Regions from separate parts of the Homo sapiens genome. Here regions 1 and 2 are each linked to region 3. Evidence: fine-mapped expression QTL. A gene starts in region 3. Each other region holds a variant in brackets. All regions are shown on one strand. Distances are from middle to middle.

Evidence for each region. PIP is the estimated chance that this variant, and not a neighbour inherited with it, causes the effect.
Region 1: its variant is the best candidate, but not a certain one, in a credible set for the expression of FNIP2 in lung (TOPMed, PIP 0.57).
Region 2: its variant is the best candidate, but not a certain one, in a credible set for the expression of FNIP2 in tibial nerve (GTEx, PIP 0.53).

What each region holds. Positions count from the first base shown.
Region 1 is chr4:158,905,448-158,913,633 of GRCh38, forward strand. It overlaps FNIP2 (folliculin interacting protein 2), which reads left to right. Exons shown (of 17, transcript NM_020840.3): 17 at 1-2,603. All of the region lies in intron 4 of SPMIP2 (sperm microtubule inner protein 2), which reads right to left. It also overlaps the pseudogene LOC124900178. Among named protein-coding and RNA genes, the nearest start is that of SPMIP2, 130 kb to the right of the region's middle. The variant T/A (reference allele first, on the strand shown) is at 4,300.
Region 2 is chr4:159,084,192-159,092,377 of GRCh38, forward strand. No RefSeq gene overlaps it. Among named protein-coding and RNA genes, the nearest start is that of RAPGEF2, 15 kb to the right of the region's middle. The variant C/T (reference allele first, on the strand shown) is at 4,050.
Region 3 is chr4:158,764,696-158,772,881 of GRCh38, forward strand. FNIP2 (folliculin interacting protein 2) reads left to right here and starts at 4,331. Exons shown (of 17, transcript NM_020840.3): 1 at 4,331-4,624. The coding sequence starts at 4,518. RefSeq lists a silencer at 4,072-4,281 and an enhancer at 4,239-4,976.

The sequences.
Region 1 (8,186 bases), 140 kb after region 3:
TTAATACAAATGACTATTTTTACTTTAAAAGGCACAGCTGTCCTGGTGGGAAATGAAACCTGCAGCAGTTCAGGATGACTAATGAAAGCAATTAGCTTGAACATTTAGAAAAAATTCATATATGATCTAAATTTTTATATTATCATTTCTGTGCCTTCTAATTCCTGCATCCTTTTCAAAACATCTTTCCAGACATTAACTTACACATTGTATAAAACCGACCAAAATGATTTCCTAAAGTTCATGCAAAAAAAAAAAAAAAACAACCTAATTTTCTGTTAATATAAAAGAAACTTCAGTTTACTGACCGTGAAACAGACTATGTACTGACATCCAGGGTAAAGTAAAAGACTTTTAAATATTGGTCATTAAAGGACAGGAGCTAAGCTAGCAAAGCAAAACATCTTTAGCACTTTGCAGATCTCAAGCAGTTAACCAGGCTCTGATTCCCTTCCACTGTTTTATGAATTAATTCCAGTTCTTTTCATGTATCTTTGAACCTAAGATTATGAAGTAATTTCCCTATTAGGGACTAGAATGACTTCAGTTTTTTCATTTGATAAAAATCAGAACTGCTACCTTTCCCTTTTTTAATGATGCAAAATGTAGATGAGTGCATTAAGTTTTGTAAGATCTTTATCATTTTATGTCATTCATTGAAAATTGAAATGTTCATTCTTTTTAATGTTTTCCTATTTCCTTTTGCCTAGCATTTGACTTTGGTGTTTTAAGTTCTGTAGTTCCATGACATCATTGTTTGCTGTTGTGTTACAGAGAGAGAAGGAACCTCACCTGTGGCTCAGCTCACCCCACATCCGTTTCTCATTACGTGTAAATAAACTGTCAGAGCTGATGTTACAGCTTTTACAGTTTAAAGCATTCCCCTCGTCTCTAGTTCCTTTTTTCTTGTTTACATGTTTTGGGCACTTTCCCTCATTCACCACCTTCCAGGGTTTCATAGAAAATAACTTGTTACAAAATCAGTTCAATTCTAATGTGGACATAGTGGCATGTTCATAATTAGACCCATATAGGGGACACTGAGCTTTAAATCGTTGATTCTAAACTCTATACATTAAAAAAATTCAGCCCAGGCCCCTCAAAGCCTGAGAAAATTTAATTTGCTCTTAATTTAATGTTCCAAAACTCACTCTTGGAAAAATGCCTGTTGGAAAACTACAGGTGGGTCACATGTGGGGGCTGTCTCCGTGACACTCAGGATTCCAGTCAGAACCTAATCCTCATATCTATTGCCTACAAAAATAGACCAAGAATGTTGCTGCTCTTTTATAATCCTTTAAATATTTAACATTCAAGTTTTCTTTGTCTTAAATTCAGCCTCTTCCTAAAAGCAAAAAAGAAAAAAAAAACCTCACAGAATTGTGTTGAGATCCACCGCTCACACGCCGTACACCACCCAGTGGCTTCATTCTGGCTTAGCCGCAGAGGCAAGAAAGGGACCCCACTTGCTCCCATGCCCACCTCAAGAAAAAACATAAAACAATTTTTTTTAAAAAAGAAAAGAAATCTACCTCAGTTGACAGGATTCCACCTTTAGGGTTTCTTCAACTTTTAAGTCTTACCTGTTGAGTGTAACTTTTGTAGCATCTTGCTTTTCCAAGCAAGCTAGTGAGGCATGACAGAGCAGAAGTCTGTAAATGTCCCTGTGATGGACCTCTTTCTAGCATGTTGCAGTTTTATTTTTAATAAATTGGTAAGTGAAATGAATGTAAAGGTAATTGTGTACGTTTTAGACATGACAATGAAAATTTAAAATGTAGCTTCCATACTTGTGCATAATTCCAAAGTATTTTATTTTTTATCAATCAGTGTTAAATAGCTTTTTGTACAGGCTTCAATCCATTTTTCGAAGTGTGCTGTTTTTTAATGAAAGTAACTATAATCTTTTCACATCCCATGGAACTGCCGTTTACACATTGCAACTTTTTAAACTTAACCATATTTTTCAAAATTAACGTTTTTGGAGGGAGAAAAATCCCCGCTTGCTAAATGATACTAAACCGTTGTTTGGGCTCTTATAATTAGGTCCTGAGATTTTATAAAAATTTAGTCTGTAGCTTTTTAGGTTCTTCACTAGAGTTGGTTGTACATAAAAATAATAAAGAATATAAAGTATCCCAAAATTCTTTTAAAGTCTGGATTTTTCCGCTAATATGTACTTTAGAGAATATTTTGTTCATGCATACTTCCACGTTAAATTGAAAATGTCTTCAGCTTCTCTTGGTAAATGTGAACCATTTGTTTTTTATTGTGCTTGGGGGAGAGGGTATTTTAATATAATTTTTGCCTAAATCAAGAAGTCCCCTCTGAATGTTAATTTTTAAATGTCAAAATATGATGAACGATATATCTTGAAAGTGAGATTGCAATATGCTTAAACTTAAGTGGTATTTCAAAAACGAGAAAATTCTGGAATTTGTCATTTGAAGCTCCATAAGAGAAATTGATAGGACTTCGTTTTTGATCAGTCTGAATAGATACCAATGTCATTGTGTGGGAATTTTTTTTAACTTGTTTATGTATTATTTTGATCCATTTTTCTGTGGCATTTGGTGCAATAAAACTTTTGAATTTATCTTGAACATTTTCCTGGTGCTGCATGCGATTTGTTATATTTAATAAAATGTAGAGGTCTCATTTCTAATAATTCGTGCTGAAAACAAGCTGATTATTTATCTCAGTGGTTTTTAACCGGGGTGTTTTGGAAATGCAGGGACATTTTTGGTTAGCATAATGCCAGGTTAGGGTTACTGGCACAGAGAGGCTGGGGGCTCAGATGATAGGCGAGAGGTCCTGCACCATGTGAGACAGCCCCATGGGATGAGGACTTGTCCCACCCACCTCCTGCGTAACCCTTAAATGTCCTGCTGGACATTTATATGGCTAAAAAAGCCTGTTTATAATTAAGCAGATAATTCTGCTATACATAAAAAACACAATGTATTTTTACATGATTTTTGTATATAATGCATTCTCCAGGAATGCAATTGTTGTATAAATTGAGGGAAGATTTTTACTTTGTAAGATTTAGAATTTTAGCAAGAAGTGGTCACTTGGTCTTTACCAAGAATTGATATACTTTTGGAAAACTGCGTTTCCAATGGTAACATAGTTTGGTAGCTATGGTACCCATGGAATTTGAGTCACCAATACAGGACATCTCTGTCAGTCTTCATTTGTAGCCCCTGCATTCATGAAGACTCTGTATATAGATGCCTACTTCATTATATTTTTTGAGATGGGGTTTTGCTCTTATTGCCCAAGCTGGAGTGCAATGGTGCAATCTCGGCTCACTGCAACCTCCGCCTCCTGGGTTCAAGTGATTCTCCTGCCTCAGCCTCCCAAGTAGCTGGGGTTACAGGCATGCGCCACCACAACTGGCCAATTTTTTGTATTTTTAGTAGAAACGAGGTTTCACCATGTTAGCCAGGCTAGTCTTGAACTCCTGACCTCAGGAGATCTGCCCACCTCAGCCTCCCAAAGTGCTGGGATTACAGGCGTGAGCCACTGTGCCTGGCCAACTTCATTATATTTTCTAATCTACTGCCCCAATATTTATGTATTAAAGTAGTATTATAAATTACTTTTAAATTTCTTTTAAATTACAGTATAATAGGGCATTATATTGGTATGATATAAATTGAGTATATTTGTAAATTTTATTTTAGGTTAATAAAGGGGGCATTACAAAATATTTGCTCTGAAAAGGGATGATGTCCACAGATATATTTGTTCTCAGGAAAAAATATGCCACTGAGAGCAACTGTTGGTACCAACATAATGCCATACTGAGTTATGTTATCTTAAAGACTGGGGGGAAAGTTACAGTAGATATTTCAAAATCCTTTCTGATAAATGAAAATTTCAAGTGTTTTTCCCTGAAGCTTTTTTTTTTTCCTTTTCGTGCATGTTCAGCTCTCCAAGGATGGCTTCCCTGCTGTGTACTCGGGTGAAACAGCTTTAAAATCATGCCATTGATAAAAGGAGTTAAACGCACGTGCACACAAGAGTGCTTTTTGGTTCCCTAGTGCCTGGACCGTTCTGTCAGACGCTTTCTGTATGTTACCTCATTTAATCCTCACAATGGATGAGGGGTACTGTGATGGTTTTTTTTTTTTTTTTTAAGAGACAGGGTCTCACTTTGTCACCAGGATGGAGTACAGTGGCATGATCATAGCTCGCAGTAACCTCAAACTTCTGGCCTCAAGTATCCTCCTGCCTCAGCCTCTCAAGTACCAGGGACTACAGGCATGCACCAACACACCCAGCTAATTTTTT[T/A]AAAAAAAATTTGGGGCTGGACGCAATGGCTCACGCCTGTAATCCCAACACTTTGGGAGGCTGAGGCGGGCAGATCACGAGGTCAGGAGATCGAGACCATCCTGGCTAACACGGTGAAACCCTGCCTCTACTAAAAATACAAAACATTAGCCGGCCGTGGTGGCACGCGCCTGTAGTCCCAGCTACTCAGGAGGCTGAGGCAGGAAAATTGTTTGAACCTGGGAGGCAGAGGTTGCAGTGAGCTGAGATTGTGCCACTGCACTCCAGCCTGAGCAACAGTGAGACTCCATCTCAAAAAAAAACAAAAAAAAATTTGTAGAGACAGGGTCTCACTCTGTTGCCCAGGCTGGTCTTGAACTCTGGGCCTTACATGACCCTCCTGCCTCAGCTTCCCAAACCGTTGGGATTACAGGCATGAGCCACCAGGTCTGGCCTGTGATGGTTAATGTTATGTGTCATCTTGGCTAGGCGATAGTAATCAGATATTTAGTCAAACACTAATCTGGATGATGCTGTGCAGGTATTTTTTTTTTCCTTTTTTTTTGAGATGGAGTTTTGCTCTTGTTGCCCAGGCTGGAGTGCAATGGCACGTTCTTGGCTCACTGCAACCTCTGCCTCCCGGGTTCAGGCGATTCTCCTGCCTCAGCCTTCCTGAGTAGTTGGGATTACAGGCATGCACCACCACGCCAGCTAATTCTGTATTTTTAGTAGAGACGGGGTTTCCCCATGTTGGTCAGGCTGGTCTTGAACTCCCGACCTCAGATGATCTGCCCGCCTCAGCCTCCCAAAGTGCGGGGATTACAGGCATGAGCCACCACTCCCAGCCCAGTGCTGTGCAGGTATTTCTTAGGTGAGATTAATATTTAAGTCAGTGGACCCTGAATAAAGCTATTTATCCTCCATAATGTGGGTGGGCCTCATTCAACCTGTTGAAAGTCTTAAGAGAAAGACTGAAGATCCCCCAGGGAGAGAGAATTCTGCCTGAAAACTGCCTTCAGGCTGGAGCTGCAACATCAGTTTCTCCCAGGGTCTCCATCCTGTTGGCTCACCCTGCTGCGTTTGGATTTACCAACTTCCACAATCACAGGAGCCAACTCCTAAAAATAAACACCCCTCCCTGGCTCTTGCTCTCCTACATGCACAACACACACATCATTGGTTCTGTTTCTCTGGAGAACCCTGACTGATACAGATACTTAGGAGATCAGTCCAATGATATGGTATGATAACCCAAAATGGAGTTGAGTAGGATCAGAAAATTGTCATTCCAAGTTACAGGAAGTAGGCTTTCAAGCAAATATCTTTAACATCATAAACAGTACCAACTTAAGAGTTATCCCATAAAGGCTGACATAGATGTCACGTAGTCTCTGAATATGTGTTGCAAAGAATTGGAAAACAACCCTCTGAGAAGGAAGGAGGTAACATTTCGTTAAAAGTGGTGGAAAGGCCCAGCGCGGTGGCTCATTCCAGTGCCTGTAATCCCAGCTACTCAGGAGGCTGAGGCAGGAGAATCACTTGAACCCAGGAGGCGGAGGCTGCAGTGAGCCAAGATTGTGCCACTACGCTACAGCCTGGGCAACAGAGCGAGACTCCGTCTCAAATAAATAAATAAATAAATAAATAAATAAATAAATAAAATAAATAAAAGCCCAGCCCTGTGCACTCCAGTGACCCAGCTGATTCATCTTCTCCAGCCTCATCACCAGATAATTCTGTGTTCTATATTCCAGCCACATTGAACCACATGTACTTCCCCAAAGGTGCTAGGTTATTGTCTTTGCCCTGTCTGTTCTTCCTAGAATAGACTTCCCTTTGCCTCATCAAGTCCCCCGTTCCTAGCACAAAATTCAATTCATTGTCAAATCCTCCAGCACCTTGCTACTCAAGGTCCTCAGACCAGCAACAACTAACTGCATTTCCTGGGAGCTTGACAGAAATGCAAAATCTCAAACCCCATTTCAGACCTACTGAATCATAATCTGCATCTTAACAGGATCCCCAAGTGATTTGCATGACCTTTAAAATTTGAGAATACTGCTCTCAAACTCGAGTGGATGAGGAAAAGAATGTATCAGTCACTGAGACTGAAGTCTGTGTATTGGAATGAAGGGGGACAATGAGAACATTTGCCAGCAAAGAAATGAAATAGAAATAAATTATGTTAAAAGTGTCTATCATATGCACATAAATTATACAATGCATATGATATATGCATTGTATGAAGGAAAAAAACTACCAGAAATCCAGAAGGGGAAAATAATGAATGTATTATTGTATGAAGGAAATGTATAATAATAAATAATGAATGTATTATTGTATGAAGGAAAAAAACAACCAGAAATCCAGAAGGGGAAAATAATGAATGGAATAGAAGATAGAACTTAAGAGACATTTTGTGATTTAAAAAGAGAGATTAGGGCATTATAGAAGAAGTGGTTTAGAGACTTGCTCAATGGATTTCCAAAAGTATTTTTAAGAGCATTTTTGGGTAAATGTATATAAGAATGATACATACTGTTAAATCTCATAAATTGTACTTTTTAGAAACATTGTAATTAAGCTCTCTAACCTTAAGTTTATACATGGAAAACCAAACTCAAAGCATGGATATAAAATATTCCCATTTTCAACCATCTATTTTGATGGGAAAGTTTATGATACTGTCTATAGGTTTAAGCTTTTAAAATTTCCCCCAAGTCACCCAGTAACACAGACAAATTTCTACTTAAGAGACTTTCAGTGCCTGGTTCTGATTCTTGTCGTGTAAGAATGGAAAATGTGTTGGCATCTCAAGTAAGAATAGTAATGATAGCCACTCACTGGGGGCTATGTGTGAGGCACTGCGTTGGAGGCTTTTCACATGTGGTATTCATTATTTGCTTTCAAATATGTAAGAACATTTGTTCCAATTTATTTTCCCTAAAGAGGATTCATGTAAAAGAGAGGGGTGTTGAGTATTTATTGAAGCATCCACACAAATTCTGCAGGACAGTCCAAAAAATGGATTTGTGGGACAAGTATCTAAAGTAACTCTGGAAATTTAGAAGAAAGCCTCATTGATAAAAAGATAAATTATTTTGAATGATTCAGTATTTTGTTTATTTCTGGAATGGAAGGGGTATGACCAAGTGCTCAACTACTCTCAGGAATAATGGGTTAAACCGACCTCAGGTGCCTCTTGATGTGATGCACTGAGCATGAGGCAACGTCACTTATCTGGGATTCCTGACAAAAACACGTAACCTGAACCCACTCGTGAGGAAACATCAGACAAGCCCATACTGAAAGATTCAGAACTGGCCTGGATTCCTCAAAAGTGTCCATGTTATAAAAGACCAGAGTGAGGAACTCCTCCACATTGAAGAGGACTAAAGAGACGTGATAACTCAATGTAATACATGGTCCTAGACTGAATCCTGGATCAGAATATTACAAAGGTCGTCAGTTAATACTTTTTGTTGTTGCTGTTGTTGTTGTTGTTGTTATTTTTTAAGACAGTCAGGCTCTCTGTCACGCAGGCTGGAGTGCAGTGATGCAATCATAGCTCACTGCAGACTTGCAGACCTGTGATCGAGCAAGCCTCCCACCTCAGCCTCCTGAGTAGCTGGGATTACAGGCATGCACCACCACCCCTGCCTAATTTTTTATATTTTTTGTAAAGATGGGGTCTCACTATGTTGCCCAGGCTGCTCTCAAACTTGGGCTCAAGTGATTCTCCCACCTCAGCCTCCCAAAGTGCTGGGTTTATAGGTGTGAAACACCACCATCTGCTATTTAGTAAAATTCGACTATGAACTTTAGATTAGATAATAATACTCTATCAATGTTAAATTTCCTGAATCTTATAAATTGTACTGTGTTTATGTGAGACAGCATCCTTGTTC
Region 2 (8,186 bases), 320 kb after region 3:
AGTGAGCCGAGATCGTGCCACCGCACTCCAGCCTGGCGACAGAGCAAGACTCTGTCTGAAAACAAAAACAAAACCTAAGGATTAGGCCCTGTTACATGTTGTGTTTTATGAATTTGTTAGCAATCTATAAATTTAATAATATGAATGCGGATGAGTTATCCGTTATCCTTTTGTATGAGATAAGGAAGTGTATTTAGAGGACAGGTACAGTTACAAAAGTTACAGACTACCTCTGTAGAGCATAGAGCAATCGTTTAATTTGGTTATATGTAGGGCGAAGCTATCACATGTATTTGTGTTAAAAAAAAAAATAAAATGAAAAACTTCCTGCAATCATGGAAAACAGAATAGGGCTTGATACTTGAGTGTTAAACAGGTTTGCAATCACCCTGAGTAATCTAGCAGACAATCCACCACCCACCCTATTATATAAGGAATCATATTTAGTTTTTTTTAAAAGCATATGTTTAAATTTAGACACTTTTTTGGCTGATGCACTCTTGCAAAGTTGTCCTTGAATAGGAAAAGGTAACTTACCACAGTCACAGCACACAGCCATTGTTCCTGGTTGCACACCTTGTTCCTGGTTGGGGCAGGTGCCCCCAAATCATGCTGGATTGTCTTTCCATGGTACCCTCATGGCTGACCAGGCCTGGATACAGACTCTTAGAAATCTTAATGCTGACAAAATTATGGTGCACCACCCCCCCCATATTCAATTCTCAATAAAACAATGCTATTTTTTTTTTTTTTTTTGAGACAGAGTCTCGCTCTGTCGTGCAGTGGTGTGACCTCAGTTCACCGCAACCTCTGCCTCCCATCTGCAACCAATCAAGTGATTTTCCTGCCTCAGCCTCCCGAGTAGCTGGGATTACAGGCATGCACCACCACGTCTGGCTAATTTTTGTATTTTTAGTAGAGATGGGATTTCACTATGTTGCCCAGCTGGTCTCAAACTCCTGACCTCAGGTGATTCACTCACCTTGGCCTCCCAAAGTGCTGGGATTACAGGTGTGAGCCACTGTGTCCAGTCAAGTAATGCTAATTTGTATGGTAGAGTCCAACAACTTCTGATTTTTCTTTTAATGATATTTAATTATTTCATTGAATTTCTTACGAATTGTACTGTTAATGTGATTAGATAAAAAATGTTTTCATCAGTAGGAAGTACGTGCTGAAATATTTTGAAGTTTAGTGTCGTGATGTTTGGAACTTGCAAATTCTTTAGTAAAAAAGACCCTATGTGTATACACACACACACACACACACACACACACAGAGAGAGAGAGGCAGAGACAGAGAGAGAGACAGACCAACAGACAGAAAGACAAAGAGAGACAGAGATGGGCACAGACAGAGACAGAGAGATGGACCGAAATGTGGTAAAATATGTATGATTTTTTTCAAATTTTCTGTAGGGGGGAAAAACACATAATCACTAAAATTAGAATGCCAAGTATCAAAAGAAGCATAGTTGATAAGTATTTTGTGTAAACTTATTTATTTATTTTTTTGAGGCAGGGTCTCCCCTCTGTTGCCCAGACTGGAGTGCAGTGATGTGACCACTGCATGCTGCTCACCATAGCCTCAACCTCCCAGACTCAGGCAATCCTCCCACCTAAGTCCCCCAAGTATCTGGGACTACAGACATGCACCACTATGCCTGGCTAATTTTTTTTTTTTTGTAGAGTTGGGGGTGGTCTCATTATATTGCCCAGGCTGGTCTCAAACTCCTGGGCTCAAGCAATCCTCCTGCCTTGGCTTCCCAAAGTGTTAGGATTAGAGGCGTGAGCCACTGCGCCTGGCCAAGTCACTCATTTTAGATAAACGGATTTACAAAAGCACACAGACATAAATTCAATCAACCTCAGAAGTCACTGGACAAAACGCCAAGCCAATTACTTTCTAAAGAAGTCCAGCCTTTAAAAACAAACTATCTAGTTTCTTTTGATGAATTTTTTCTTCTACAACTTTAGCTTTCTACCAACTCAGAACCTAAGAATCAATAAAGCAATATTTCTTACACTGCCTTAATCAAAAATAGGTGTTTTCTTCTTTTTTTCATCCAATTAGTACAACTTAGTGACTGTTCTATGCCAGGGCTAGTGTTGGGCTCTGAATATGCAAAAATAAAAAGACAAGGGCCCCGTCCTCAAGTTCACAGTCAATTGGTGAGGCAGATTTTTGACACATAATTACAGTATGATGTAAAAAGCATTATAATAATGGTATGTATAAGCTGCTATGGGATCATGGTTTAAGAAGCCTTAATTTATCTGATGAGAAAGGAAGGAGGTGATAAATCAGGTTATAATGATACAATAATAAGTAATAATGGCAACAACAACAATAATAATAGTGGTCATACACCGGGCAAGTCCTAAATACAACAGTTATAGAGGGGTAGGTAAGGGTTGACAGTTGGCATAAGCCAATACAAATTACCAGGTAGGGAACAGGCCCAGGATATGGCAATACAAATCTTGGGTAAAAAATGCTAGCAAGTCTACCTGGCTAGAACATTTTTGCCATTGCCACAAACTCCCTTCGCACATATTTCTCATATGTCATCTAGCTAATATTGCCTCCACCCGAAAGAGGCCTTGAGGCTCACAGGAGGTAGGTATGCATTTTGCCTCTGGAAAAACAGCTGGTGTGTGGCAACATAGAATCTAGGTTAGAACTCAGGTGTCTCAGACACTTGCTCCATTTAGTATGTAATGCCACCTGCCCACAGACCTTTGCTTAGGAGAGTCTTTAATAAAAGAGGAGTGGGAAGTTCAGCATCAGGGCTTGTACCTGTAATTGCAGCTACTTGAGAGACAGAGGCAGGAGGGTCTTTTGAGCTCAGAAGTTTGAGGCCAACCTGGGTAGCATAGCAAGACCGTCTCAAAAAAAAAATAAATAAATAAATAAATAAAGGTGGAATTGGGAGTAGGAATTTCACAGGTGAACCAAGGAGAAAAGAGAATTGTAGTCAGGAGGTGCATATGCAAAGCATTAAGGAATTAGAGAGTTTGGCAAATTCTCCTAGACGCAATTAATTATTAGGCATAATTGGAGTAGAAGGTATTAGAAGAAAAAACTAAATAGTCCTACCTGCCAGAACACAGGGCTCTTGAATATTATGCAAAGGGAATTGTACTTTATGGAGTAAGCATTGGAAAGCCACTGAAAGACCTTAAGCTTTGGAATTCCATGATCAGATTTGGTTTTTAGAAAGATGACTGTGCAAAGGCCAGACAGACTCTAACAAGAAGGGAGTCAGCCAAGGGCAAGCACCAAGCAGGGGTTGAGTCTGCACTGTGACTGGAGGCACCTGGCAGGATAAAAAGGTCTTACCCTTTGCCTGTATTCTCTACATAATTTACAGTCCTTCTTTCAACATGACGAAATGTATCATTTTTCCAAAATAATCATAAAAACCATCATGCCAACATGTTATTTTAAAACTGTGGTGGCACATGCCTGTAGTCCCAGCTACTCAGGAGGCTGAGGTGGGAGGATTGCTTGAGTCCAGGAGGTTGAGACTGCAGTGAACTGTGATCACATCACTGCACTCCAGCCTGGGCAAAAGAGCTAGACCCTGTGTCCAAAAAATAAAATAAAATAAAATAATAAAATAACATAACATATTTAAAAGGTATCATTTTTGCAAATGGTGCCCAGGGAAGCAATGGTTTCCTCTACTACTTCCAGCAATGCTTCTCCTTAAATGGCATTTTGGAGGGATTAAAGACAGAAAATAAGGTTTAGGAGAAAGAATGCCTGAACTAGGTCAAAGACAGTAGGAATGGTGGTGGGGAGGATTGGCCTTGTGATTCAACATAACTTGATAACTGATTGACTATGGGGCCAAAAATGAGAAAGTGTATCAAAGATGACCCCTTGTTTTGCCTGAGCAGCTGGGTAGATGGTGGTGTGAGATATGGGAATATTTGGAGAGAAGATTTTGGAAGACAGATGCTAAGTTTAAATTTGAACATGTTAATTTTGCATTTGGATGCCAAAATTGTTTCAGCACCACTTATCAAAAGATTGTCCTTTCT[C/T]TACTGCACCTTTCTAAGAAATCAGTTGACCATATTTTTGTGGGTCTATTTCTGGCCTTTCTATTCTGTTTCATTGGTCTATGAGTCTATTATTTTGCTAATAACGCACTGTCTTGATGAGTGTAGCTTTATAGTAAACCTAGAAGTGGGGTGATGTGGATCCTTCAACTTCATTCTTTTTTATCAAAAGTGTTTTGCTGGGGGAAGGAAAGGAGCAGGGAAGGGTTGAAAAACTAACTGTTGGGCACTAAGCTCAGCACTTGGTGATGGGATCATTCATACCCCAAACTTCAGCATCATGCAGGTAACAAACTGGCACATGTACCCCCTGAATCTAAAATAAAAGTTGAAAAAGAGAGAAAAGTGTTTTGCCCTTCTATATGAATTTTACTGTTGGCTTGTTAATATCTATAAAGAAACTTGCTAGAAGTTTGATTGAGATTGCATTGATTTGATAAATCAAATGGCAGAAAACTGACATCTTAATAATATTGAGTCTTCTAACCCATAAACATGGTATATTTTTCCATTTACTTAGACATTTTAAATTTCTTTATAAGGGTTTTATAGTCTTCTGAATACAGATCATGCATTTATTTTGTTATATTTATCCCTAAGTACTTCATTTCTTTTTGCTGGACTTTTTGATTTTGAGGTGTCTGTATAAGTCTATTTGCAGATGTGGGAAAATAAATATAGAAGTCTGGAGGTCTAGGGTGTCATTTAGGATAAAATTCAAGTTTAGTGTAGTCACATTTCTCAGAACGTGTCAGATTTTTCATGGACAAAAAACAGAGAAGAAAATAGGGCTGAGGACTAAGTCACCTTAATCACCAAATCACCAACAAATGGTTAATTATGGCACTTGATGTTCTAAGTTTAAGAAATGAGTCAAGGAAGACCCAAGAACCCCCAAAATCAGATGGTACCAAAGAGTATGTGTCTAGATGCTGACTCTGGGAACATGCTAAGTCTCTGTTCTCATATTTGTAAACAGGTATAGTAATAGTGCCCATTTCATAGGGTTATTGGAAGATCAAATAAGACAATCACATGGAGGACACGGAAGAATGCTTGGCATATAGTGAGCACTCAACATCTGTCAGCCATTCTTACCAGTTGTGTAAATTACTTTCTAGGAGCTTACTGTGGGAATGTCTTGGAAAAAACGTCATGGCTTTTAAAATTCCTGGTATTTTCTGGCAATGACTATTGATTTTCACAAGAAAAATTGGGATTCACTACTAAAATAAGTTTTCTTACATGAAATATGCCCAGGTCTGGGTACAAAGGTAAACTGTACATAATAAAAAATTTGTGGCTGGGTGCAGCGGCGCATGCCTTTAATCCCAGCACTTTGGGAGGCCAAGGCAGGAGGCTCACTGGAGCCCAGGAATTCGACACAAGCCTGGGCAACATAGTGAGACCTCATGTCTACCAAAATAAAATAAAAATAAAAAATTAGCCACACATGGTGCTGCATGCCTGCAGTCCCAGCTACTTGGGAGGCTGAGGCAGGAGGATTGCTTAAGCCCAGGCGGTCGAGGCTGTGGTAAGCCATGATCACACCACTGCATTCCAGCCTGGGCCACAGAGTGAGACCCTGTCACAAAATAAATAAACAAATTGTAACATCTGGAATTCTCTGCTAAAAGCTCTTCATTTAGAAACCATGCCTGCTTGCATTTTTAAAAAAATTAATACATAATTATTGTATATATATGGGATACATGTGATATTTTGATACATCCATTCAATGAATAACAATAAATCAGAGTAGGATATTCATCACCTCAAACATTCATTGTTTCTTTGTGTCAGGAATATTTCAAATCTTCTAGATATTTTGAAATATATAATAAATTGTTGTTAACTGTAGTCAACTTACCATGCCATCAAACACTAGAACTTATTTCTTCTAACTGTATGTTATTTATTTGTTTTGAAACAGGGTCTCTCTATGTCTAACATTTGTTATTTATTTGTTTTGAAACAGAGTCTCTCTCTGTCACACAGGCTGGAGAGCAGTGGAGTGCAGTGATGCCATCTCAGCCCACTGCAACCTCCACCTTCTGGGCTCAGGTGACCCTCCCATGCCAGCCTACCGAGTAGCTGGGACTGTAGATCCACACCACCAGACCTTTAAAAAATTGTTGTTAATAAAATTACTTTAATTATGCTAATTAAATGCATATTTGAATTAATAAAATAATTAATTTAATTAAGTACATAAATTAATTGTTATGTTAATTAAATACAAAAATTTGGTTAATTTTTATATTTTTTGATACAGATGGGGTTTCACCATGTTGGCCAGGCCGGTCTCAGACTCCTGCATTCAAGCCATCCACTTGCTTCAGCCTCCCAAAGTGTTGGGATTACAGGCATGAGCCACCGCGCCTGTCCCTAACTGTATGTTTATAACCATTAACCAACCTCTCTCTTTATCTCCTACACCCCCTGCTTGCTATTTTTGATATGTGTTTCAAACATCTCCCAAATGAAGTATGAGAAACGTAATTAGGTATTACCATGGACTCAGAATTCATATTTTTCCTTCCTATCCCTCATCTTCCCCAATGATTGCCTAGCTTTGCTCACAGATTTTATCCCCATGGTTTAGTCTGTCTCCAGCTCTGCATGAGACCAGAGTTCTTCAAAATAATCTCACTTTAGGGAAAGGACAGAAATTGGACAATGACAGCTCTATGGTCTGGACATTGTTTGGCACTTTGTTGGGGAAAAGGGGAGAATTGAAACTCTTTACTAAAGTTATTATTTCTCCAATTTCATTCTCACTGTGTTTACAAGAAAAGCCAAAGGAATGACTTCCTCAGAAAGGGGACCACTCTCTAATATTGGCAGGTACCAGGATAGAGGCCCACAGCTAACTGTGCTACTGAGATAGTAACGGAAAGTATAGATTCTCTAATCAGGCAAAAGTGCCTGTACTCCTTCAAGATCTCTTGTAGCACATTGTCAGGAAAAAGCCAATCGGTCTGAGACTCAGTGCCAAGACTCCTGCTACCATTCCTCCCAGAAATTCTTAGGTGGCTTTGTCTTCACAAGTTTCCATAGTTCTTGATGGAAGTTGTGTTAGACTACATAAAATGTGTCTTGCAAGTATTTTAAAAATGACCATCAAGATAAATCAGTAGACACTGACATTCTTCACAGAATTAGAAAAAACTTTAAAATTCATATGGGACCAAGAAAGAGTCCATACAGCCAAAACAATCCTAAGCAAAAAGAACAAAGCTGGAGGCATCATGCTACCTGACTTCAAACTATACTACAAGGCTACAGTAACCAAAACAGCATGGTACTGGTACAAAAACAGACACATAGACCAATGGAACAGGATAGAGATCTCAGAAATAAGACCACACATCTACAACCATCTGATCTTCATCAAACCTGACAAAAACAAGCAACCAGGAGAGGATTCCCTATTTAATAAATGGTGCTGGGGAAACTGGCTAGCGATATGCAAAAAATTGAAGCTGCACCCCTTCCTTATACCTTATACAAAAATTAACTCACGATGGATTAAAGACTTAAGTGTAAAACCTAAAACCATAAAAACCCTAGAAGAAAACCTACGCAATACCATTCAGGACATAGGCATGGGCAAAGACTTCATGACTAAAACCCCAAAAGCAACTGCAACAAAAGCAACAATTCACAAATGGAATCTAATTAAAGTAAAGAGCTTCTGCACAGCAAGAGACTATCATCAGAGTGAGCAGACAACCTACAGAATGGGAGAAAACAGATTTTGCCATCTATCCATCTGACAAAGGCCTAATATCCAGAATCTACAAGGAACTTAAACAAATGTACAAGAAAAAAAAAAAACATCAAAAAGTGGGCAAAGAACAGGTGAACAGACACTTCTCAAAAGAAGACATTTATGCGGCCAGCAAACATATTTTAAAAAGGCTCGACATCACTGATGATTAGAGAAATGTAAATCAAAACCACAATGAGATACTAGCTACACCAATCAGAATGGTGATGATTAAAAAGTCAAGAAACAACAGATGCAGGCAAGGCTGTGGAGAAATAGGAATGCTTTTACTCTGTTGGCGGGAATGTTAATTAGTTCAATCATTGTGGAAGATGTTGTGGTGATTC
Region 3 (8,186 bases):
TTTATTTATTTAATTTTATTTTAGAGACAGGATCTTGCTCTGTTGCCCAGACTGGAGTACAGTGGTGTGATCATAGCTCACTGCTTCCTCGAACTCCTGGGTTCAAGTGATTCTCCTGCCTCAGCCTCTTAAGTAGGTAGGACTACGGGTATATACCACCATGCCCAGCTATTTTTTTTTTTACTTTTTGTGGAGAGAGGGTCTCATGCTGTTGCCCAGACTGGTCTTAAACTCCTGGGCTCAAGCAATCCTCTCACCTAGGCCTCCCAAAGTGCTGGGATTTATCGGTGTGAGCCATCGTGGCTGGCCTGAAACATGTAAGTGAAATCTCAGATTATGAGTCTTTAGATAATGATATCCTAGATACATTTTCTCAAACTCAAGAACTGACAATTCAACAACATATACCTAAGGATAAAAAGGAAATAGGGTATTCTCATCCAGTTTGACATTTAATAGGAATTACTTCCTTATTCAATACTTTGCAACAAGAACCTGAGCCATCCTAAAAAAGTGTGATATCTTGTCATCTTTCATGGTGTTGTGCATCCAATATACTTCATATAGTTTATAAGATAACAAATGATAAAGGCAGATGTATATATACAAAGGTGAAGGGAAGGAAATCTATAAGGAAGAGATGAAAAAATTCATTGGATTGCTAATTCTACTTGGTGTTTATAAATCTAAAAATGAAAATATTTTGCAACTAAGAAACAAAGAAAATAACTACTGTCTCTTCAACAAAATGATGAGCCATCAAAGTTTTCAAAAGCACTGCTTTTTGTTTATTCAAGTGCAAGCAGCACAAAGGTAATGATAAGTTAGAATCGTTAGAGATGTATTTGATTCTGGGTGTGGTGGCTCACACCTGTAATCTCAGCACTTTGGGAAGCTGAGGCAGGTGGATCACTTGAGGTCAGGAGTTCAAGACCAGCCTGGCCAACATGGTGAAACTCTGTCTCTACTAAAAATACAAAAAATTAGCCGGGCGTGGTGGTGGGTATCTGTAGTCCCAGCTACTCTGGATGGTTAGGCATGAGAATTGCTTGCACCCAGGAGGCGGAGGTTACAGTGAGGCAAGACTGCGCCACTGTACTCCAGCCTGGGTGACAGAGTGAGACTCTGTCTCAAAAAAAAAAAAATGTATTTGAAGCCTGGAATCAATATTTATAAGATGATTGTGTTCCTGGTTCATATATGCTAATTGATAAGTAGTCAGTTACGTTCAAAGAACACTGTCCATTTAGGGTAAATAATCCTTCAAATGCAGGAAAATATAGAATAAAAAACGGGTTTGCTGTACTGAAATTAAAAATTTTTTAAAGAATTATTTTTCACTATTCCTTTAGTCTTAGCTCTGTAAATAATTTGCAAAATCACTTAACAGTATGAAAAAACAGAACAGGACCATTGGTGACAAGTATTTTCTCTGGCATATTGAGAGATAAACAGATTGGCATTATGTGTCTCACATAACAAGCAATAAAGAGGACAGAAAACACGAACCTGCCTCAGCCTCTTATAGACTGGTCTATAAGAAAATAGAAATATTATCTCACCTAATGGAGAGTGTCAGGTTAGGGCAGAGGGATTGTGGCTCAATAATGCCATCAAGGACCCAGCTCGCTTCTATGTCTCTTTGCCATCTCCAGTCCTGGTTTCATCTTTAGGCTTGTAGCAAGATGGCATTAGACCTAGACATATAACATCCAAAGGAAGAAAAAAACCCACCTATCTCTCTCTCTCTCTCTTTCTATTAAGAGTGAGGAAACTTTTTCCAGAATTACTCCTTTTCCTCCAGCTCCTTTCTCTCTTGCCTCCTGTTAGGAATAAGGGTAACAGGTATTACATAGGCTACAAACGGTATCAATGACAGTCTAATTGCAGAAGCAGAACTAAAACAACTTACATAATATCCACTAATTGAGAACTGTCACCAGGACTCAGAATGGACCGGACTAAGTAAGTCAGCCCTTTACAACTTCCCCTTTCCCATTTTAGTGTTGTTCTGTCATCTCCAAGCATTCAGGATATTGTCTTATTCCCTGCTCCTCTTGACAGCTGCGTACAAGAACAGCCAGCTGGTATATTTTCCAAGATAGGGTGAGTGGGAAGAGGTGAATAAAGGAGATGTATGGAACTGGGCGATGGGCCACGTGACCAGTGTTGGAGACTGAGATTATGACAAGCCTCAGGGACCAGGCAATGACCAATGGATGATGGGCAAAAGATTGGATTTTTGTAGCGGCCTTGAGTAGCCAATAAAATAAAATAAAAATAAAAAACAAGAAGACTGGGAGAGCTGGCTAGAGCTGTCTCCCAGAACTTTTTTGGCTAGGATTTTTGTATACTTTAAAAATCCAAAGGAGGAGGTGTGGCCAGAACCAGGATGAGGAAGAATGTGATGCTGAGAGGAAGCACAGGGAGAAAGAGGGGAGAAGGGAAGCATTTTGGTTCCTTTTGTCTCCTTTAACTGAAGTCCTGGCTTTAATAGTTTAAAATACACACTCTTCCTTTATAGTTGCCTAGTCAAAACCAAAATTGAAGATGATGGCTAGAGCAGGTTATGATTTTTTAATTGCCTCTTTTGGATGATCTTGTCTATTTGGACTGGGTTGGAACTGAAAGAGTCCTAGGAAGTGAGGAATGAGGCACAATATGTCAAATTCCTCTTCTATATGCAGTTACAAAAGCTGCTAGGCTCATGAGGAACATGCAGATTTTAGTCTGGAGAATAAAGGACATTTTCTGACCAAGGATGGAGTAAGGAAAGGTGGTGAGTTGCTGGCCACAGTATGACCTGGGACTGTATCTGAAAGTCACAACGTATAAAGCCAATACCTTCTATATAGCATCCTGACCAACACTGGCAGCCCTATGAGGTAAAGGCCTTCAGCAAACAGAAATAGCAAAGTTGCAAATTAGGGTTCTGTGTACACTCAATTGTGCAAAAGGATGATTGCTCATCAGGATAAACACTTAATCCACCATTTTAACAGTAAAAGTCCGAAGGAAACAAATGACTAAGTTTCCATTTCTACCACCTTTCTCTTACCTTTGTGAAATTTCAGCACATTATTCACAGCTAGTTCCCAACCAAGTCCAGAAACTAACACAATTAAAAAAAGAAAATGCAAAGTAAAATAGGCCCAGAATAGGTTCTTTTGATTACTTATGTTTTTGGAAATATATTTTCCTTTTTGAGTCTCCAAGAGTCCTCCTCTCAACAAGTGTAAGAGAGCCCAGGTGAGTCACTGTTCACTACTCATGGAGAAGCTAGAAGAGGCATGGTTGGGGTCTTACTAACTTTATCTCTATTTCCCATCATCGGAAAAATTCGTGAAGCCCAACGCTCTAAAACATAGATTAAGAAGTTGCTTTGAGTCTGGTAACGTGTCCTACACTGGCTGTTTAGAGCCCTGCACCACCAAGGATTAAATTCCAAAGGGGACTGGGGTGGGACAGGGCAGGAAAGCGGACTCAAACACATGAACTCCTCCCTTCCTCAAACCAAATATCTGCTGCTGATATGCCTTGATTGACTGTTAAATATGTATTAGGAAAAACAATCCCTTGCTATAAAATATCTTAAGTTTCTAAATCTATGTAGTGAGTTCTGTGTGTGTGTGTGTGTGTGTGTGTGTGTGTGTGTGTGTATGTTTTAAAGGGGGGACTTAATATTTCAAATGCAACTTCTTATATAACCATGGTATGGTGGCCCAAGACGCCAAACAGAACAAATGATTTGGATAAACAGTTTAAATTTTGTGAAAGCCTGGAGGAATCGAATTTGGACATGGAGGAAACCTGACAAAACCTTGGGTGCTATGTGATTCAAATCACAGCCCACCGAAGCGGCCACCGCGCGTACCAAGCCTTCCCCCCTAGCATACGCCTTCTGTGAACGGGCTCTTGTACCTGAACAAAGCGAGGACCCAAGTTCAGGGGCTTTGTCTCTAAAGAACAAAGATCGGCCTAGCTGCATGCTCGCTGTGCGAAAGAACCCAGGCTCCGTGGGAACCCCACGCCACTCGCGGAGCTGCGCCCCGGCGGCCGCCCTCGCCCCTCGGGCCCCTTTAAGTGCCGCGCCTGCCCCCGTCCGCGTCCCCCGCGTGCCCGGAGTACTGGGCCGCCCGCCCGCTCCTGGCCGCACCTCCCACCTCCCGCCTCCCGCCGGGGTTACGTGAGCCCGGGGCGGGCGGCCGCCGGGCCAATGGCCGCCGCCGGGGCCGCCGCGCTCCTCCCGCGCCGCCGCCGCCGCCGTGGGGCTGCGGGCTCCTCCCGCAGGAGATAACTGTCAGCGCGCGAGGCGGTGGCGGGCCGGCTCAGTCATATGACCGGCAGCCGGCGGCTCCGGCGCCGAGCAGAGTTACTCAGTCGCAGCGGCCCCGCGCTCCCGCAAGGCTGGGCGGCCGCGCCGCCGCGATGGCCCCGCCACCGCGGCCGCCGCCCCCGGCTGCGCGCTGAGCCGCCGGCCCCCCGAGCGCCACGGCCGGAGCTGCGGCGGCGGCATCATGGCCCCGACCCTGCTCCAGAAGCTCTTCAACAAAAGGGGCAGCAGCGGCAGCTCCGCGGCGGCGTCTGCCCAGGGCAGGGCTCCTAAGGAAGGACCCGCCTTTAGGTGAGGGGGCGCCGGGGGGCAATTCTGGCGCGGGACCCGAGTTGGCTTCGGTGCTCGCCGGGGAGGGGACGGGTAGGGGAAAGGGAAGGGACTGTCCAGGACGGCGCTGCCTATCGCCGGCACCTGGTCCCGGGCTTGTCAGCGTGGACGCGCCTGATCCGAGTGTGGCTCCGGACCCTCCGTGACCCTTCCTCCCGCTCTTTCTCCACAACTCAGGGTCCTTCCCCATTTCAGAGTTCTCTTGTGTTCCTTGGGGTTCCCGGGCGTGCGCTGTGCTTGGCTGTGGCGACCGGAGATTCTCCGGTTATTGGGGTGAACCCCTTCCGGGCAGAGCCGCCTGGGCACCTCTGCGGGCCCAGCAAAGCTGTGAGCTGTCATTTTGAGGGCAGCTCCAACCTATTGTGTACGTGACAGTGTTTTGAAGTTCTGAAGGAGCAACAGTCACGAAAAAGGCATCTTTCTTCTTTCTTGCCATATATGACAAGCTCTCAAACGGATGAATGAAAGTATGTAATTTCCACATCATGTGGAAGGTTGATGCCGCATGATGTGTGGAAAGGGGGAGTAAGATGCAATTATGAAATTTCCGAGATTTCAATTGATCAAAGCTGATATGTATATTTAATAGATTTGATCTCTCGAACACATACCTTTGAATATTGATAGCATTTATGGAGAGCTTACTACCTAAAATGCTTTATGTTGATTTCTGTCGTTTACTTTTCTGACAATGCGGTGAGGTGGGTGCTATTATAATTCCCATTTTACAGGTGAGGAAACTTAAAGTCACAGATAACTTAGGCGGCTTGCCCAAAATCCAGCTGTCAGTGGTAGAGCCTGTGTTTTGACCCAAGCAGTTTGACCACAGATTCCAGTCTTTAAAATCCCTATGCTATTCTGATTTCAAGGGCTAACTTTTAAAAGACGCCTTAAAATGTCCTATATTGCCTTTGAGCACAGGTATGTTGAGAAGTTTATTTAACAATTTTTCAACACATTTTAAAATTGAGCACCAACTCCCAATTCTGACACTATGCTAGGTGCTTTTTGGCCAAAATGTCTTGCAAAAACAGTTCACTGTTAAACAGATCTAGACCCAGTATAATAAACCTTTAAAAGTTTCAAGTGAAACTTTGAAATAAATTCTGGATTAAGTTTTATGTTCTAGATTTTGCTTTTCTTGAATTCCATCATTTAAAACAGTCTCTCACTGTGGTCATGTGAAAATTAAACGTGTGTGTGTGTGTGCACGCGCGCTCATGGAAGGCATATTGTGAGGACCTTAAACTCCCCAAGTTAAATTCTCATGTTTTCTTTAGGCTAACAAGCCTTATAATTTGAGTGGGAATTCTATGCCTTTTGTTAGGCTGAGTATTAGTGATGCCATGTACCTTCTCAGAATGGTAGAATTACTTCGGACCTAAGGTGTGTAATTTCGTCCCTTCCCTCCCTGTAACCCAGACTCCATCAGGGGTACAAAGCCTGGAGCGGAAGGAGCATGTTACAGGTGTCTGTACTTTGACAGCTCTTGCCAAGGACATTTAAAGCCATTTGAATGCAGGAGGAGATAGTGGCGGTTACTTGTCATTGTTTTCTGTGCTCCTTGCCTAATTGCCTACCACCATTTCCGCTATCCACAAGTTTAACTGAGTGTATTTGAACAAAAAAAATATGGCTATATTTAGGGTTTTGGGCCATATTAGGGAAATTGATTCCCACTTCATGGGAACATTTTCAGTAGTGTTCTGACTTCTCATTTGTGTATAATGAAGAACAGAAAATCGTGCCAAGTACGGTCTTTTTTTTGACCTCATTGGGATTTTCTACAAGAATTTGAGATCGATGTTTTTGGAGAATTTGGGGATCCCAGTTGAACATCCTACTTGATGAGGGCCCCCTTCAATAGTGTCCCTGATAGAGGTCACCATGGAAAAGAAAGTAAAGTAGCAGATGTGAGCAAGGATGCTGGACGATGGGAACAAACCATCCTGTGCTCACCAGACTGACAAAGGAGACCCCAAGCAAGTCTTTCCTTTTGCTCTTTTCACCTGGCTTAATTCTAAGATGCTGTGTAGCTGGCCTGGGAAAAGCTTCCAGGAAAATTTTTCTCTCTACCTAAAAAATTGTGAACCTGTGTTTCATTTTACCCAGATTTTGCCAAATAGGAGTTGGTATGTACTTTGAGGGGAACAAGGTGCCTTATTGCAGGGCATTAGCTGCCCTTGGGAACTACCTTGTAGTTAAATAGAGTTTTAGAAGTGAAGCTAAAACCCTTAGATTAAAAATCGAGTATTCCTAACATGAATTTGTATTCTTTAGTGCATTTAAGTACAGGATGTAACTTGTTTATCTGGAGATTGAAAATTCACTGAGGATTCAGGTAGACTTTTGGGGCAGTTTTGTAGTGTATATGGGGGAGAATCTAAGATCCAACTTTTTGTTTGTTTGTTTTAGAGTTTGTATATCTTCTGTTTCCATGATGGACTTTCACTGGTTATTTTAAACTTCTCTTCTCAGAATTGTTTTGCCCTTGTTGTTAGTCTTTTTACTCTTGTGCACTTCCTAGTCCCTTCGCTGGGCTTATGACTGTTCTCATTCCTCCAGTTTTTACACACTTGATTAGAGAGGAAATCTGTTGTCCAATATAACTAGTTTATCTCACAGGTCATTTTCAGGACTTCATGTTTCCTGGCATTTCATCTAAAAACAGGATCATCATAGTCAAGATTTCTTCTGGAGTATTTCCTTTAGGATCTTGACAGAAAGCCCTTTTCATAGCTTTGAGGAAACAGGTTGCTAGGAAAACAAAAGGAATCACGATTGACCAAACTTACATGTTTGGGAGAAGTAGTCAGGAATGCTATATGATTATGGCATTTACATTTGAATAATGCTTCGTACCAGAAAAATAAATTAGGACAAAAAAAATGATGTGTACAGTGACTCAAGTCAGAAATAGAATTATGTTCTTGGTTACCTTGGATTTAAGGCCAGGATGTTTTCAAGCCACGCTATGTCCAGTGACTTACATGTGTGGTTCACGTTTGAAGCATTATCTTAAGGTTGTTCTTGTTGTTGTTGTTTTTTTCTCCATGTCTTTTGTAAATTAATGGAGCAGTTTCAAACCCCTAAAATGTGTATTTAGCAGGGAGGTGAAAAGACCTTGGGCTACCAGATGTTCTTTTATTTTGGAGCAGTTAAATGAAGTAGGGAAGCATATATATTATCTGGGATATGAAGAACAAGTGAAGGCATTGCAGCTGCTTGTTAGCTAGCTGTGTGAATGCCAGAGAAGAGTATACCTAAGGCCAAATGGCCTAGTAAGTGCTGATCCCCACTGTTTTGTTAGAACAAATTTAATCTGTTATAGAGTTAGTATAAGTATAATTTAATCCACTTATCACATAGCATCTGATGCCTCTGTGCTTGTGGCTTGGCGCTCTACCTGTATAAATCCAGGCAGGACACCCACGGTCTCACCTACTGGAGTTTACAATCTAAAGGACAACAGATTATACACTAAGATGAATAAAGAGCAGACAACACATTGGAAACTATAACA